2 separate regions of the Homo sapiens genome follow, and region 1 is linked to region 2. A link means that fine-mapping ties the variant in region 2 to the expression of a gene that starts in the linked region. Tissue or cell type: whole blood. Region 2 holds a variant in brackets; the other region holds the start of a gene. All regions are shown on one strand. Distances are between the middles of the regions.

The links. PIP is the estimated chance that this variant, and not a neighbour inherited with it, causes the effect.
Region 1: SMARCD3 starts here. The variant in region 2 is fine-mapped to the expression of SMARCD3 in whole blood (TOPMed, PIP 0.99).

Annotation. Positions count from the first base shown.
Region 1 is chr7:151,243,996-151,252,166 of GRCh38, forward strand. It overlaps SMARCD3 (SWI/SNF related BAF chromatin remodeling complex subunit D3), which reads right to left and starts at 4,699. Exons shown (of 13, transcript NM_001003801.2): 1 at 4,490-4,699; 2 at 1,465-1,676. The coding sequence starts at 4,567. RefSeq lists enhancers at 643-1,217, 1,218-1,791, 1,792-2,366, 2,367-2,940 and silencers at 1,454-1,753, 1,774-1,853, 2,928-3,222, 5,270-5,359.
Region 2 is chr7:151,268,233-151,276,403 of GRCh38, forward strand. It overlaps a transcript of SMARCD3 not described here. Among named protein-coding and RNA genes, the nearest start is that of SMARCD3, 24 kb to the left of the region's middle. RefSeq lists an enhancer at 6,438-7,237. The variant C/G (reference allele first, on the strand shown) is at 3,918.

The sequences.
Region 1 (8,171 bases), 24 kb before region 2:
AAAAGATGCGAGCTGCAGAAGTGTTTGAGGAAAGGTGGGGATGAGGGAGGACAAAGGAGAGGGAAGCCAGGTTCTGAAGACCTTTTCTGGAAAGCAGGGGGTGCCCTGTCCAAAGGGGCCTAAGCTCAGAGGGAGGGAGAGAGACGAACTCCTTCCTATCCATGGAGCGGGAGGTGACGGTGTGAAGCTGGCGGGACTTGCACCCCTTCCAGCCACCCTGGGCTTGGAAGAGAACGCTGATGGGCTGGGGGTACTCATGCCCTGGGACTACCTGGCAACAGGGTGAGGGACATGCTGCAGCCATAGGCGCCCAGAATGTGCATGGGTGTGACTTCAGGCTGAGGCCAAATTGACTAGGCCCGGGGTAGTAGCAGCTGGATGTGGGCTCTTTCTGACCCACTAGCTGCTTCTAACTAACCCAAAAACCCCCAGAAAAACCTTGGCGGGTCAAGAGATGAAAACGCAGCCCAGAGAATAGCTCCATACTGCCCCCGTGTGGTGTTCTCAAGCACTGCCCCCTCCCTATGCAGAAATCTAAGGCTAACAAGCGGATTTCATTAAAGGTCTGGTTTGTTTTAAACAGATTATCTATGTGTAACTCTCCATTTATACAAGATAAATCAGGGAATTACCATTTGCTGTACAAAATGACGATGCACTTTACTAAAGAATTCATCATGGGATTCCTATAAGTGGTGATTTTTTCCCCGATGTGTAAAAAATAATAATGAGGTAAAATTGATATTACACCTTTTATAGAAACCCATCTGTTGTGCAAAAAAAGCATGTGTATTTGGCTAAATACTGAAACCCGGAGGGGCACTGCTGTTGCCAGGAGCCAGCAGGGGCTTTGAGGGTGCCACCAGCTGCTGGAGGAAAGCAAGGAAATGGGCTGGCCCTGGTGGCTTGAGAGCAGACCTGGGCCAGAGTGCCTAAGAATTAAGAGCAGGACTGGGTAGAGACCACCTACCCACAGGGCAAATCCCCAAGCTCCACCCCCATGGTCAGAGAGTCCCATTGAGAAAATCTGGAGTGGCTTTGAAACAGCCCGGGGGCCGGCAGGAAGGCTCAGCGGAGAACCACACTTTGGGGAACACAGTCCTACACCTCTGCCCTCAGTCCCACTGGAAGCCCCGCCCCCACCCCAAAGACTGAAGCATCACCCAGAACCTGATGGGTGGAGAGAAGGACTGAGCAGGTGACAAGGAGAAGGGTGAGGGGAGCGTGCAGGGAAGCGGTACCGGCTGCCGACGCCGCAGCCTGTCTCTACCGTGGGCACACAAAAGAATCAGGCCGGTGCCCCCTAAGCCTACCTCCCCAGAGGGCATTCGACCCGGGAAGCCTCGCTCCCTGCTAATCATTCTTCCTCGCCCCTTCCAATCCCCGCTACTCGCTTACCTGGTCCCTGCGGGTCCCCCAGGGCCCGCCCCTGCACGCCCCCTCCTCGCCGGGCCTCCCACTCACCTGCGGCTCCGCGCGGGGGCGGTGGGCACCGGCTGGCCCTGGCTCTGTGCCTGGCTCTGCCCGGGCGGGGGCGCTGCTCGCTTGCGGGCGGGCTCCATGCCCGCGGGGGCCAGGCCGGGTCGCACGGCGGGGCTGCCCATGTACGGGGAGCCCGGGGGGCCCATGGGCGCCCCCTGGTGGGGCATCCGGGCTCCAGACGGCATCCCGGGGCGCTGGGGGTGGGCGGGGGTGAAGCAGAAACGGGCGCCCGTGGGTCAGACCAGGGCCCCCCGCTCCAGGCGCGGTGAGCCGGCGTCTCCCCTCCCCCACCAGACCCTCGGCTGGTGACCCTGAGCGTTGAGCGATGGGTGGGAGCGATGGGTAGGAGGGGCAGGGGCGCCGGAATCTGCGCGGCTCTGGCGGAGGGGCTTGGCGTCTGGCTGCAGGAAGCTAACTGAAGCCAGGCACCGCACAGGGCATTGCGAGCCTCGGGGCTGCGGAAGGTACCGCAAAAATGAATATTAATGGCGCCTTTCAACCTTTCAAAGATGTTCACATCCACATGCTCCTCTGCAAGACAGCCTGAGCAGGTCCTTTCATCCCCACTTGACGGATGGGGCCACTGTGGCTCAAGGAGAAAAATGACCTCGCCAAGGTCACACAGCTCATCCTGGCCCAGGCAGCCCCTGAAGGGCTGCCTCCTGGGGGCCCAGGGCTTTGCTCTCTGCGGCTTGGTTGAGGTCCGGTACCCGGCTCCCTGCTCCGACTTCTGCTCCTCCTCCTGCTCCTCCTTCTCAGGCTCCACTTCTTGGGCGGTTCTGCCTGGTACTCACTAGCTCATCTCAGCCACTCTGCTCCCTGTGTCCCTGCTTTTGACCCTTGGGTCCCAAACCCCACTCCCCTCGGCTGACTCCAAGTCCCCACATCCAGGGTCTTCGCTGACCAAGCTGCCCCCATAATTTGCTCCCAGGGTGAGGGCTGGAGGCAGGGCAGGCAAGGGCAGCCTGCTGGGGCGCCCCAGACACAGCCAGGATTCTCTGATTGGGAGGAGGGGAACTGCGTTAGAGGTGGGCTGCCCAGGGGGGCCTGGGGTGGGTCAGGGCAGTGACACTTGCACTCACATTTCCCTTCCTGTCTGCCCAGGTCAGCAGCCACCTCCTCCTCTTCCCATCCCCACCCCAGTGAGGTCAGCAGTCAGGGTTCATGGGGGCTGTGGAGACTGAGAGGAGGCGGCTCCTCCTCCCTTGCCACTACCCCTGGGTGGTCAGATGGGGTGTAAATGAGATGCAAATGCATCGAGCGAAGTGTTCCAAACCCCACTTGTCCAGACTCCAGAAGGGAGATGGGGAGGGCCAGAGAGAGTTTCAGGGGCTGTGAAACAGAAAGAGCGGGGTGGGATGGGGACTGGGACCACGAAAGCAGGAAGAAGATCAGAGGGCAGGGGATGCAGACCCTGGCACTGTTAACATGGACACACCACCCACCTCACCCCCAGGCATGAGGAGGGGCCCCCTTGGGCTTGCTGTTTTCCTTCCAACTGCTACCTCTCCCTCCTGGTCCTCCAGGCTCTGTGTCTAACCCTAATGTCCTCCCACCCTCGGTCAGCAGCTGTCTCTGCCTATCTCTCCTGCAGTGAAACCTGCCTGTCCATGTGTCTGCTTCCCTCACCCCACCTGACCCTGTCACTCAGGCCTCCAGGGTAGCAGCCCAGAATGGAGCCCAGGCCTGGCCACCAGCTAGGTGGGGCACTGGGGCTCACAGCCACTCAAGAACTGAAGCTGTAAGTTGACCAGATTAAAAAAACAGTCCACGTGTACAGCCTCTCCCCACTAGATGGGCCTTTTTAAAGGGGCTCCCACCAGCAGCCAGGTTAGGACTGGTAACTCAGCTAGCTGACATGGACACCTTGGGAAGTTACCCCCAGGGGTCCCTGGGGCTGGAGGACAGGCCACTCCAGGGAGTCCCCCTCTTCCTGTCAGCTGCTCTCCCCAGTTATCAAGGCCAGGGATACTGGCCCATCTGCTGAAGAGGCCCTGAGAGGGAGGCTTTCAGAGCCCCCAGAGAGCTGTGCCCGCCACCAGCCCCATCCCCATGAAAGGCCAAAATCCTAGGGACTCTGGCCTTACTGAGAGGGTGTCTTCCTTGGGGTCACAACCAAATTTGGCCATAGTAAACCCGACAGCTTCCTCTACACAGGGCCTCCACTCCCTCACCCATCCCAAGAGTCGCAGCCCCTGCTTCTCCCATTCCCCACCCCTCCATACCCCTCCCAGCCGGGCCCTACTGACTCAGCTCCAGCCTCCCGGGCTCCCACGTGCCTTCACAGCCTGCCTGTGGCAGGACAGTGCTCCCCTGTCCCTTCGGTCTCTAGGCCTCATGTCCCCAACTCCAGCCCCTTCCTTCACATGTTCGAGGAGTTAAGGACATCAGCTTCTGGTGGCTGAGTCCGCCAAGGAGACCCTCAGAGCCCCTAACTTGGGCTAAGTCCCTAGAGCGGTCCTCTCCCCCACCCTAAGGCAGAAGCTCCAGAGCCCTCCCGCTGGGATGCAGAGGTGGCTCAGCCTGCGAGCTTCCCGCTACAGTGCCTCCAGGGTCACCTGCTCCTTGCTCCGGAGACACAAGCAGTGACACTGTCCCAACGGATGAACAGACAGCCCAGCCCAGCCTCTGCCATGTCCCCATCCCCCACCCCCACCCCCAGGGCAGGGGCAACACCTGGGCCCACAAGGAAAAGAACGAAAGTCAACCTGTCGGCTACAGCGAGGACCCCCTACTTGGGGGGTAGAGTCCCCAAGTCCCACCCCCGCCCCTGACAAGAGCCATGCAAACGCCTCCCTTCCCCGCCTCGCGTCAGACCCGGCCGGCCGCCTGGCGACGTGTTCGGGTGCCAGGGCGCCAGCACAGTCCCGCGGCCGGGCCGTGGGCCATGACGCCCCCCACTAGAGGGGTGGGAGAGCGGGAGCGCCCTCCCGGCCCCTCCCGATCAGCCCTCCATTCAGCCCGAGCCAGCTCGCTTGCCCTCCCCCGCTAACTTTCCCCCACTCACCACCCCATGGACCAGAAACTCAAAAAGTTTGCTTTTCGTGGCTTTGCGCGCCCCTCCGGCAACTTCGTCCGCGGCCATCGGGGTGGGCTCAGCGGCTCCTCTCACTCTCTCTCTCTCTTCCTCTTTCTTTCCCTTTTCTGCCTTTTTTTTTCCTCCAACTCTCCCCTCTGAGTCCTGCTGGGCTCTCTCACACTTCTACTCGAGCGGAGTGGGGAGGGGGCCCCTTCAGGGCTGCCCTGACGGCCCACGGCCCACGCCGCCGCCGCCCGCCCGCCGCCGCCGCCGCCGCCGCGGCTGCCGCATTCCTGCACTGATAAGACAGAAATAGTCCGGCGGCCCGGGGTCTGCCTGTTGACTCGGCGGGGACGGGGCCGCCTGCCTTTCCAAGCCCGCTGTCCAAACAGCGCAGATAAGCGGCGAGGCGCGCCGACCAGCCCGGCCGCGGGCGCTGGGCAGCAGTGCTGCAGCCCGAAGCCGCCGAGGCCCGCGGGAGGCGGCGCGGGGAGGGGACGCCAGGGGAGGCGGCGGGGGGTCGCCGGCCACCGGCTCTCGCCACAAATAGTTTCTCCGTCAGGGAATTCGCCGGCCGCGCCAGGCAGGGAACAGTCAGTTCCAACTTTTCCCCCAGCGGCTCCTGCTGCATTTCTGAGGCCCTTTCCCCAGAGACCTGGCAGGCCGAGCAGGGAAACATTCGCTGGCAGGAACCGGGGGAGCCCGGCCCGCGAGGCCTCGCGCCTGCCCGGGGCCGGCGGCGGTGGGTGTGCCCGGGCGGCGGCGTGGCCCTGCGTCCACTGCTGTGTGTGCCCTTGTCTCACACGCCGTGTGTGTCCGCGCCCTTTTGTGGCGTGGCAGCTTATGTGCGTGCAGACAGACGCCCTGTATGTGTGCCTCCCTCCACGACAGCCTCCGTGCGCGCGCGCCTGCGTGTGTGGCAGGACATGGCCTGTGCCTTTCAGCTCTGTGAGAGGCTATTTCTGGGTATGTGAGTCTTTGTTTGCCGCTCTGTGAGAAAGTGAGGGCAATAGGGGAAGTATTTCAGAAAGAGGGACAGGGATTGTGCTCATGAGAACAGGAAGAGAATGAATGTGGGGAATGGCGCAGCGCCAGGGGGGTGCTCGGGTGGGTGCGTGGAGAGAACGAGGCAAGCTGGGCTTGGTTTCCTTGGGGTGGGGGTGGAGTGGGGTTAGGGGACCCAGAGGAGTTGGGGCAGCTGGGCTGGGTATAGTGGGTATATTGGGCCGGCCTCAAGACCCCAAAGAGAGGGGTCTTGAGGCTGGGGTGTGGCGTGGGGTGGCAAGGGAGCCCCAGAAGGGGCGTGTGGAAGGAGTTGGCAGTCCCTGGAGTGGAGGAGGGACCGGAAGGAGGAGGGGCAAATCCTGACATACCCAGGCAGGGAGTCCTGGGCCTACCCAGGTCCCCAAAGGCCACGCCCCTTTTTTCTCCTTCTTGGGGAGGAGCCGTGGGCTTTGGAACAAGGCCCTTGGGTCAAGTTTGGGGGTCTGCTGGGGCCTCACTGTGAGAATCCAGGTGAGGGCAGGACCATAGCCTAGTGCCTAGGGGAGTTTGTTGAAACACTTACTTGAAGTTGGGCCCTGAAGACTGAAGGGTACTGACCCTAAACCCTTCAGAATGCCTTTGCCCAGGGGGTCCTTTCTGCCTGCAGCCTGATTTCTGCTGGCCCTGGTTGTGCTCTTGGCTGTCACTGTTCATTTAGGTGCCCACTGTCAATCTGAAATGTCAGGGAGGACATCTGGTCCAGGTTGCTCCTCCACCACCCCTAGCTTGAAAGGGGACCTAGAGATCCCCTTGCTACCAAATCTCTCCCAGGGCTTTAGCCTAGACTACCCCCCACACACCCCCACACACAGAGCCTGGGCCCTGACACGGTGGGGATGGGTGGGTGGCCTGCCTCTGTCTGCCATAGGTCATGCTGCTGGGAACCTGGGGAAGTGACTTGCCCAGTCTGCCTGCTAACCTCCAGAATCCCCGCTCACTCCCATTTCTTAGCCCCTGCCCCCGATTCTTTTACCTGGAATGCCCTTTGCCTGCCCTCTGCCTTCCCTCTGCTTGTCCAAATCACACCTATTCTTTAAAGCCCAGCCCAGGCCCCACTTCCTCCAGGAAGCCTTCCTTCGTCCTACTTGTATGCAAAGATTTTTCTCTTCTCCAAATGCTCATTGCCATCTACCCAGCACCATGAATTGGCATTGGACTGGCCTGACGTGCACTGTGCTTCAAGGACATTAGCTTTGCTTTCCCAGAGAGGCTAAGGTCCCCATAAGGTCAGAGACTGATCTTTAACTCCCACTCTTCCTCCATGCCTGGGCACAGGAACTCAACAGTACCCCAGATACCTGATGCTTGCAAAGCTTAATGAGCCAATGCATGGAGCTGGTACTCTGCCATTTACCTGATGGTGTGAGTTACCATGGGCACCCCCACCCACCATGGGTGCGTCTAGCAGGGGCATGGGAAACCACAGGCCTTGGAGGTTCTGGGGGTTGGAGATAGACACCCCTAGGCTTTGTTAAAGCTCAGTGTTCTCAACTATTGGAGAGACCTTTTGGGAAAAGAAGACAGCAGAGGAGATGCTGGGCACTCCAGTTTGGGTAGCTGGGAAGTTTGAGGCAGGGCCTGGGAGATCCCGGGCTTGGTCTTGGTGGTGGAAGAGGTTGCGGGAGGTAGTTAGACGAGGGGCTATGGTGAAGCCCCTGTGGAGGAGCTGGTGAGCTTCACCCAAGTCCATACATAAGCGCTCTCCTGAGCCACCCCTCTGGGAGACATCCTTAAGTGTACACAGACAATAGATACACCTTGCACACACACCCTCCCAACACACACACAGCAGGCACACCAATACAAGCACCAAAAGGTCGAGGAAGCCACATGGCTCTGCACACACAGGCACACCTTGAGCACCTCCACATCCCGTGGTGGGCCCCATTCACAAGGCAGGCCCAGACACATTTGCGTACTGCTTTTAGGTGGGCGACAGGAGGAGCCTTCAGACCAGAAAGCTGGGGCGGCGCCAGTGTGGGGGCCCGGGCCAGGGCTCCCTCCTCACAAAGGCCAGGATCCCCAGTGGCTTAACCCCAGAAGGGCGCTCGGTGTGCCACGCCGCCGATGGCTCCTGCGGGTGGGAAGGAGGCCCGGGAAGAGCGTGGATTCCTCCCAGCGCAATAGGGCGCCCGCCGCACTTGGGGCAGGCCGTGCGCCTGTCGGGGGCGAGGGCGGCCGCCCGGCGCCCGGCGCCGCAGTCCCCCCTGCCGTCCCCCCATCGCTCCTTCCCTCGCTGAAGCACCACCAGCACCAAATGGCAAAGCGCCGCTCCCCGCGCAGGGAGAGATGCGCCGCGGCCTGCGGGACGGGCTCGGCCGCCTCGCCCCCACCGCGCCCGAGCGAGCGGGCGGCGGCCGGGGAGCTGGGGGGGCTCGGGCCGGCCCGGCCCGCGCCGCCCCTCCCTCCGCCCGCGCCGGTCCCCGGCCTGGGCATGCGCGCCGCGGCCTCCCTCCCGGTGAAGGTCAGCCCGGGGCCCAGCTGCAGGACTCCGCGGCGGCCGGGGAGGCGGCGGAGGGAGGAGGGATGCGGGGAAGAGACTTAACTCCTTCCCTGCGGGAAGATGGCCACCTAGGCCGGGCCCCAGCCGCAGTCCCGCCCTCCTGCCCTCCGTGAAGGTCCCACC
Region 2 (8,171 bases):
CATCAAAGCCAGATTTCCAGAATCTCTTAAAAAATGAGAAATTTGGCAAGACCAGACCACCAGTCCATTTAGAGACAATCGGGTGGAGCTGAGGAGGGGCTGCCCCTTTTCAGAGGGGCGAGAGCCCTCCGATTTGCCACATCTCCTCCCCATTCCCTATTTTAGGGGTTACAAACTCAAATGACCCTAGGGACACAGCAGTGAAAGTCAATGAGTGGAACAGGCTGTGTGTGAGATGATAAATGGCCTTTGACCTTGAGCCTCAGTGCTGGGGGCAAAAGAGGAGGGGCTGGGTTGAGACCCTGAATAAAGGGGTGGCTGTCTTGTCTCTGTGAGGGCCCCTGAGGTTTGGGCACAGCAAATTTCTGAGGGCTAAATATGGTGGAGAGACCCCAGTTGGGACTCTTGCCCTGACCACTGGGAAAGTTCCTTCATGCCCTGTGCCTCAGTTTCCTTATCTGGAGAGGATGATGATTATAACAGCACTTACCTTATAGTGTTGTGGTTAGGATAAATTAAACCACACAAAATTCTCTCTCTTTTTTTTTTAATGTAGAGATGAGGTCTCGCTTTGTTGCCCAGGCTGGTCTTGAACTCCTGGCTTCAGGCGATCTTCCTGCCTTGGCCTCCCAAAGTGCCGAGATTACAGGCATGAACCACTGCGACTGGCCTAAAATTCTTGAAATAGTTCTCAAAGCCCACAATGATCCCTCAGTCTTTACTGGCTGCTATTACTCTGCCCCCAGTCACTTCACTCTTTCACTTCCTGCAGGTCACTGTGTTTGTGGCAGCTGTTCTTGAATCTGAGGTGGGGGCTGTGATGGCAGGTGGCAGGGGGAGACATCCCTGCCCACTGAATGGATCTAAAGTGTCTCAAAGACAGACTTTTCTTTTGAAGGAAGAGGCCTGGGTAAGATGCAAGTGAGGTGATGGTGAAGGGGGAGTTAGAAGGGAAACTGAGGCAGGAAAAGGCAAAAGCACAGTGCTGCTTCCTGCTGGGCAGAGTGGAGTGGGTGCTGTAGACCTGAAGCTGGAGCTCAGCTTCTCTTGCATCTACTTAGGCCCCCACGGGGGACACCTTCCGACCCACCAGCACCTCCTTCAAGCCTACACACCCTCGAGTCCCCTGCTGTGGATTCAGCTGCCGGCCCACCCTGAGCCATCTCCAGGGACCACAGGGCTCTCTCCTGCGCCCTGCTGGCTCACTTTTTCTTTTTTCCAATTAAAAACTTTATGAAAGGCAAAGAAGACAGGCCTTTCACACCTGCAGACTGCATCAGGCTGGATGGGAGCTGTGGGCTGGAAAGATGGGCTAAAGCTAAGATAGCTCCATGTTGGGGCTGACAGATATGGAACAGGAAGAATGGACTTCTGCGTGTCTGGGTGGTGGCCAGTGGCGTATGCGGGCAGCATGAATGGCAGGCTGGGACCTGCAACCAAGGGAGGCATCGGTGGCATTAGATGGTGCTCTGGGGTCCACAGATGACACCTGGAGCAGGGACAGCGCTCAGCATCCCATGTGAACACTTGCAGTGGCGAGGGGCGCTCGGTGAACGCAGGCATTGTGCAGAAGGTCCGCCATCACCATTGCTTCTTTATAGAAGGGCATGATGTCCCATTCTACAGATGAGACATGTCACTCAGAAAACTGAGTACCCCTTCCCCATCTGCCTGGCTGGAAAGGGAGAGCTCACCTTCTAGCACAGGCACAGGTGGCTCCAAGTGTGGGCCATGGCCTTGGGGGATCTTCAGCGCTCCCCAGGGGGCACGAAGGCTGGGAATATTTGAAAGAGCCAGAGCTGGATGTTCCGAGCGGAGACAGAGCCTGTGCGAAAGCTGCCTCCAAATGTTGAAAGGTGGTCAGATGGCTTGGAGGGAGAAAGGGGTTTCTCCCTGCAACTCCAAAAGGCAAACCCAAGGTCAGAGGGAGTGACATTCTCCCTCACCATAGGAATAACTGAAGAGGGAATGAGCATGGAGCACTCCTCCAACCACGGAGTTACAGGAGGGAGACGCGGGGCACAGGGCAGCTCAGGCGACAGCAGGACAAGGTTGGCAGGCAAGAAAGGCCCACTCTTGCATCGTGGTGGTGTAGAGAGGGTGAGGCTGACAGCACCAAGAGGGATCTGGGGCTCATTTTAGAATCAGCCGTAGAGCCACCCCCTCTCTGTCCACTGCCTCACACATTTGCTCATTCATTCAAGAAATACTTCTCTGTACTGTGTGGAACAAGACAGATGCAGCCATGCCTTTAAGGAGCCCTGCAACTCAGTATTAGCCTCTTTGGTAGGTGCTGCAAGACAGAAGAGAGTGGGTGGGCCTTCACGCCCAAGCCGGGTGGGAGAAAGCCTCCCTGGAAGAGGTGGAACTGACGTGGAGGCTTCAAGGATGAGTGCAGTTAGCCAGGTGAAGGGAGCTGGGAAGGGTGTCGGAGGTGCAGGGAACAGCATGTGTGAGGGCCCTGAGTGAGGGCACGAGAATGAAGCCACTAGGAAGTGGAAGGCGGAACAAATCAGATTTGTGTTTAGGAAGCCCATTCTCGTTACTGTGCTGGGCCGGGGTCTGATGCAGGGACAAGGCTGAGTATGCGGCACTCAGATGGGGGCAGAAGATCACAGTGTGTGGACCAGGGCAGTGACGTGGGAAATCAGAAGCAGATGGAATTGACACTTATCTAGGAAATAAAATCAAATAAAAGGATGTGGCAGTTGTTCCAATGGAGAGGTAAGAAAGGGGGTGGACTTGGTCACTTCAGGTCTGGACCTGAGCCTCAATATCACTGTTTAGCAATGTGGCCCATCCACCCCACTGCAGAGGGGCCCTACTCCCTTGTCTTCATGTGTTCACAAGGAAACATGTACTGTATTCCCAGGAGAGGAGATACTGGAATGACCCTGGCCCTCTCCCCACCCTTCCTCCCTGTGGGAGGAGGCTTTGTCTGATGAGGTGGTGAGGGCCTGCACCAGCCGCACAATCCCTTTCCCAGGCGGGTGGGGTGAAGGTGCTGAAGGCAAGGCTGCTTACCCTGTGGCCAGCATTCCTCTTCTAGACGAGTCTGTTTTAGGACACAGATCATCTCCTTCTGTTCCCATGCCCAGGTAAGCAAACCCAGGTTAGGGAGTAGGACCTGCCTTCTACACTTGGGCCTCAGGTTCAAGCCTCTCTTCAGCTTGAATTTCCTTGCACTTAAGTTAACTGATGCCTGTGCCTGTTTTTCCATGGGTTCAGGACCTGTGGGGAAAGACCAGGACTGGTCCCTCCTCATACCCAAACTCACCTGTGGGGCCTGTGTGCTTAAGGAGCTCTTTATTTCCTATAAGGATATTACCCCTACCTGGAGAATGTGACTCTGTACTTAATTTCCAATTTTAAATAAACCTTCCTGCTGCCTGATATTTATCAGAAACATTGTTGTAAATATCAATATAGAGAGTATTTCCTGGCCAGGCTCGATGGCTCATGCCTCCCAACACTTTGGGAGGCTGAAGTGGGAGGATTGCTTGAGCCCAGGAATTTGAGACCAGCCTAGGAAATATAGTGAGACCTCATCTCTACTAAAATAAAAACAAAACAAACAAAAGCTAGGGGGCATTGTGGCTTACGCTTGTAGTCCCAGTTACTCAGGAGGCTAAAGCAGGATCGCCTGAGCCCAGGAGTTGGAGGCTGCAGTGAGCCATGATCACACCACTGCACTCCAGCCTGAGCAACAGCGTGAGACTCTGTCTCTTACAAAAGAGAAAGAGGGTATTTCCTGAAGGTAGCAATGCATTCCTCTAGTTGCTCCAAATTTTAAGTTTGGGTTAAGCAATATTACCAGTAGGTTTATGGCTGGGGAGTATTGTGTTGGTCCTTGCCTTAGCCCTAGGAAGCAGTTGTGACATTGTTGAGAACATTGCATAACTTTGTCACATGGTATC[C/G]CCTTCATTTCCTCATACAGGAGAGACCTCCCAGTGGCTCGGGACCAGAAATCACGTGATTTGAGCAAGTTGTTTGATTTTTATCTCATGCACAGTGTAAATCATGTAACTGCTTGCTTCTCTGCTGGCATCGGGGTCTCTGGGCCTCGTGGTTTGCATTTGGTGCAGTAGCCACATCCTAGGCAACACCATGTTTTCTCTACTCTATCTCTGTCTCAGTTTCCTCACTATATGTATCTTTGCAAACTACCTGAAACCCTTTTCAGGATGAGGCGGAGCATAAGAACACCTCCCTGTGTCTTCCTCTCCCTCCCTTATGGCACAGTGTCCCTCACTCTAGGGCATTTTCCCAGAACGATCTTCAGTCTGGGAAAAAGGTTCACATGGGAGATGGTCCAAGTTTGTAAGTTGCAGTAGGAGGCCTGTGTGGGGCGCACGCTCATGAGGCACGTTCTCAAATCCCTGGAAGTAAGTGTAGAGTGCCAAGAATCGGTGTCACAGCTTGGAAAGTCAAGAAACCGAACGCGCTATCCCAAAATGTGGGCCTGGCTGAAGTGATCAGCCCTCCTCTACGGTCCTTTATGAGTCACCAAGGATTCCCACACCCCTCATTAGCAAGGAGCACAGGGGGACACAGCAATGGTCCCTACAAGATGTCCCTCAGCCAAGTACCCGTCAGAGGCAGGCGGTGGCCTCAGCTTGGCCCCTCTGGTACAGCAATTCCAGATGGTTAGGAGTCCAGCCACAGCTGAGGGAAGTCCACTCATCCCCGATGGGTGGCTCAGCCTCCTCCCAGTGACACCTCTAGCTCATTATCTCCACCACTTAATTTTCACTAATCATGAGCACTCACTTGCAGTCACACCGCCAGTTTTGGGGTGAGGACGGACGCCTAGGCACCAGCACCAGGGCCTGTCAGCATCCAAATGCCCAAGTGCCTGCCTGGCTGCCAAGAGCCTGCAACGCACACCGCCGATTGCATGTGAATGCAACTCCAAGATAAGATGCCAAACTTCCACCACCTTGTCACTCTTGGAGCTGGGGCTTCTGACTCATGGCCAGGGTCACTCTGGGGCCAGGTGTCACTAGGATGGACCTACTGCCCCAGGGCTCCAGCTCCAATCTTCACAGGCCTCCTCTGCCCTCCTTCCCCTGTGCCCATCCTGCAGTGACCCTTCAGGAAAGGTCTGGAACAGCCCAAGGCTCCCTCCGACTGCTGCTGGGGAGCCCCTTAGGGCCTAACGAAGGGCATGTCAAATATTAGGAGGACTCTCCACGTGGGGGACCACTTCAGGTGCACCCCTCCAGGAAGCTTAGCTGCCTCCCATCAGCCTGCCCCCCGTTCAACCTGGCCTCTAACCTCAGACACCCCAGAACTGTAGAGTGCTTGGTTTAATATACTAGTTCTCACCTTTTCTTTATGAATTTCAGCTAAAACACCAACCACCACAAACTGAGCAACCAGTCCCCAGTTCACCTCAGGTGCTGGGGAGGTGTTGGGGATAAGGGTGGGACGTTTGCTTGGAGGCCTTGACTTTCCTGCAGGTGGACTGGGGCTTCAGGTGTGGGGCTGGGCATGCCGCCACCAGGTGTGTTTCCTTGGTGATGGGTACCAGGTGACTGGTGCCTGCTGCTGCCCTGTGTGGCTTGGATCCTCTGGGCCAGGCCAGCTTCCCCAAAAGCCGGTGCCCTGCCCCATTTTGCCCTGGGCCTGCACCTCACTGGAGGAGGAGGGGCACTGGGGCAGTTTGAAGGGGAACGGGGCTGTCCCTGGCCTTCAGAGCAGCCTGGCAGGAGGATGAGTTCCTCTGCCCACTTCTGAGGAAGGAGAAGCAGAGAAAGCACTTTCATTCTGCCCACAGCCCCAGGCCTCCCCGAGCCTCAGGCTCCTCTGGGCCATTTCCAATTGCACCTTTCCAGGACTTTCCTGATGTCTCCCTCCTCAGTGCTCTGAGGCCTGTGTGGTCTGTGGCCCTTTGTGCCCAATTGTCAAGGCTGCTCTCCAAGGCCGCAGGCCCTGAGGACAGGGACTGGGCTCCACATACCTTGAGGCCCTGCCAGTACCCACCCTGTTGCCAGGTGCCTCCCACCGGTGAGGCCAGCCAGCGTGATGATGGGTGGGGCTGGGCAGGCAGAGCTCAGACCAGACTTCAGTTCCGACCCCTTACCATGCCAGCTGGGGCTCTGGGGCAGGTGGCTTTTCTGCCCAGAGCCTCAGTGTGTCCTTCTGGACAAGTGGGGACTGATGCGGACAAATGCAGACCATCTTCCTCTCACTCCTTGAGGAGGAGGCTTAGGAAGGCCCTACAAGCAAGCAATGGCCCAGAGTGCATCAGAGCTAGAGGTCCGCCTGGGGCAGGGCAGGGTTGGCTCCCACTGCGGGCTGTGCAGTAGACGGCTGCCACCTCCCTCCTGCCACAAGCGGAACCCTGCCTGGGGCCCTGAGGGTTTTTAGAGGTTTCTGAGCACAAGTTGTGCCAAGGAATCAGCAGGTTCCTTCCAGCTCGCAGAGAGCATGTGGTGTGTGTGCATGTGAGCATGTGCACGTATGTGCACGCTTCTTCATGTACGCAGTGAGAGGAGATGGGGTGTTGTCTGGCTGTCTAGGTGGGGAGGAAGTAGAGCATGCCAGAGCCCAGACCATGCTCACATGAACCCAAAACTTGGTTTCAGGTAGCTTGTCCCTGGCTCAGAAAGGCTTTGAGAGGCAGGACCTAAGGACACCAGGAGGTGAGAGGACACGCAGGAAAGGGAGTGTGGGATGGAGGGAAGGACATTAATGACAGGTGTCAGCAGGGGTGGGGAGAGGGACAGAGAGGCCCTGCCATGGGCACTAAGGAGTCCAGCTGGGGGCAGAAATGCCGGGAGGGGGCCATGTGGTGGGAGCAGGAGCCGAGGGCTGGCCGACTCGCCATGGGGCCCCAGAGCTTCTGCTCCTGGGCTGGCAGGGGAGGAAGCACCTACCTGTACCACGGTGGGTGGGTGCTGAAGACCTGGAGTCATAGATGGCAGGGTCCTGCACCTGGAGAGTCATCCAGTGCCCCCTCGGTGCCTGGGCCCGGAGCCCACCGCGCCTGCAGCACCAAGGGCCATTCTGAGGATCTGAAAGGAGAGGTCAGACCCTGAGCCCCAGCGTAGATTCAAGGAGGCCTCGGGAAGCTGCGAAGAAGCCAAACTCCCCGGAGTGGAGGTCTGAGGAAGCCAGGACACTGTGCAGAAAAAAGGGCCTAGGATGGAGGCAACCAGCATGGGCCAGCTGGGGCTGGGGTGGCACAAGGCAGGGCGCAGGTGGGAGCAGTATGTGTGGGAAGCAGACAGAGACCGGCCCCAGGGTCCTGCGGGACAAAGAACTTGAAAGACAGAGCAGGGACCCCAGGCAGAGCCCAAGCCCTGACTGGAGAGGCCAGTTTTGGGGGTGTGGCAATGGTTGGAGGGAGAGAGCTGGGCATTGGAGGCAAAGGCCAGAGGGCAGGTCAGGATGGTAACTGGGATGGCCCTGGAGCCCAGGGGCATGGAGGGACTCCAGAGGTGGCAGGCAGGTAGTCAGCCTGCTCCATGACTACCAGCTGGCCTAGGCGCCTCCCTCCTGGTCCCTGCTAGTGCCTGCTCTGTCCTGTCCTGCCCTGCTTCCTTCCTTGCTGGAAGAGCAGGAAGGCCTCCAGCTCGTTGGGTCAGGACCCAACTTATGAAATGAAGTCCCTGAGCAGACGGTGGGGCATGGGAGCTAAGAAGAGAGCAGTGCTGTAGGAGCGGGGTGTGGGTGACAGAGGTGGGGCTTGGGAGTGGCTCAGGGTCTGGTTAAGCCATGTGAGCAAAAGAGGCTGCTGCCCATGGATCAATCCTGAGCAGGGTTGGGAGGAAAGGGGATGAGGAAGGAGGAGGCTGGAGACAGGGAGTGCTGGGGATGGGAGAGCTGGTGGGGTCCGGGAGACAGAGTGGGAGGGGAGGATGAGGAGAGGAAGATGCGGTAGGGGAGGGGCTACCAGTCCAGGGTCGGGGGGGAGGTGCCCTGCAAGAAGGTGGGGGACAGAGGGACAACCTGAATAGGAGAGGGGTATCCAGGGAAGACGGTGGCCAAGTGGAGACAGAGAAGGTGCCAGGCAGGGGAATGATGGGAAGGTGCTAGGTAGGGGAAGGAGGGAGAGGATGCCAGGCAGGGGAAGGAGGGAAGGTGCCAGACAGGGGGAGTAGGAAGCAGAGCATGCCAGGCAGGAGCAGGTTGAGAAAGTGCTCGGCAGGGGGGAGGTGACAGGC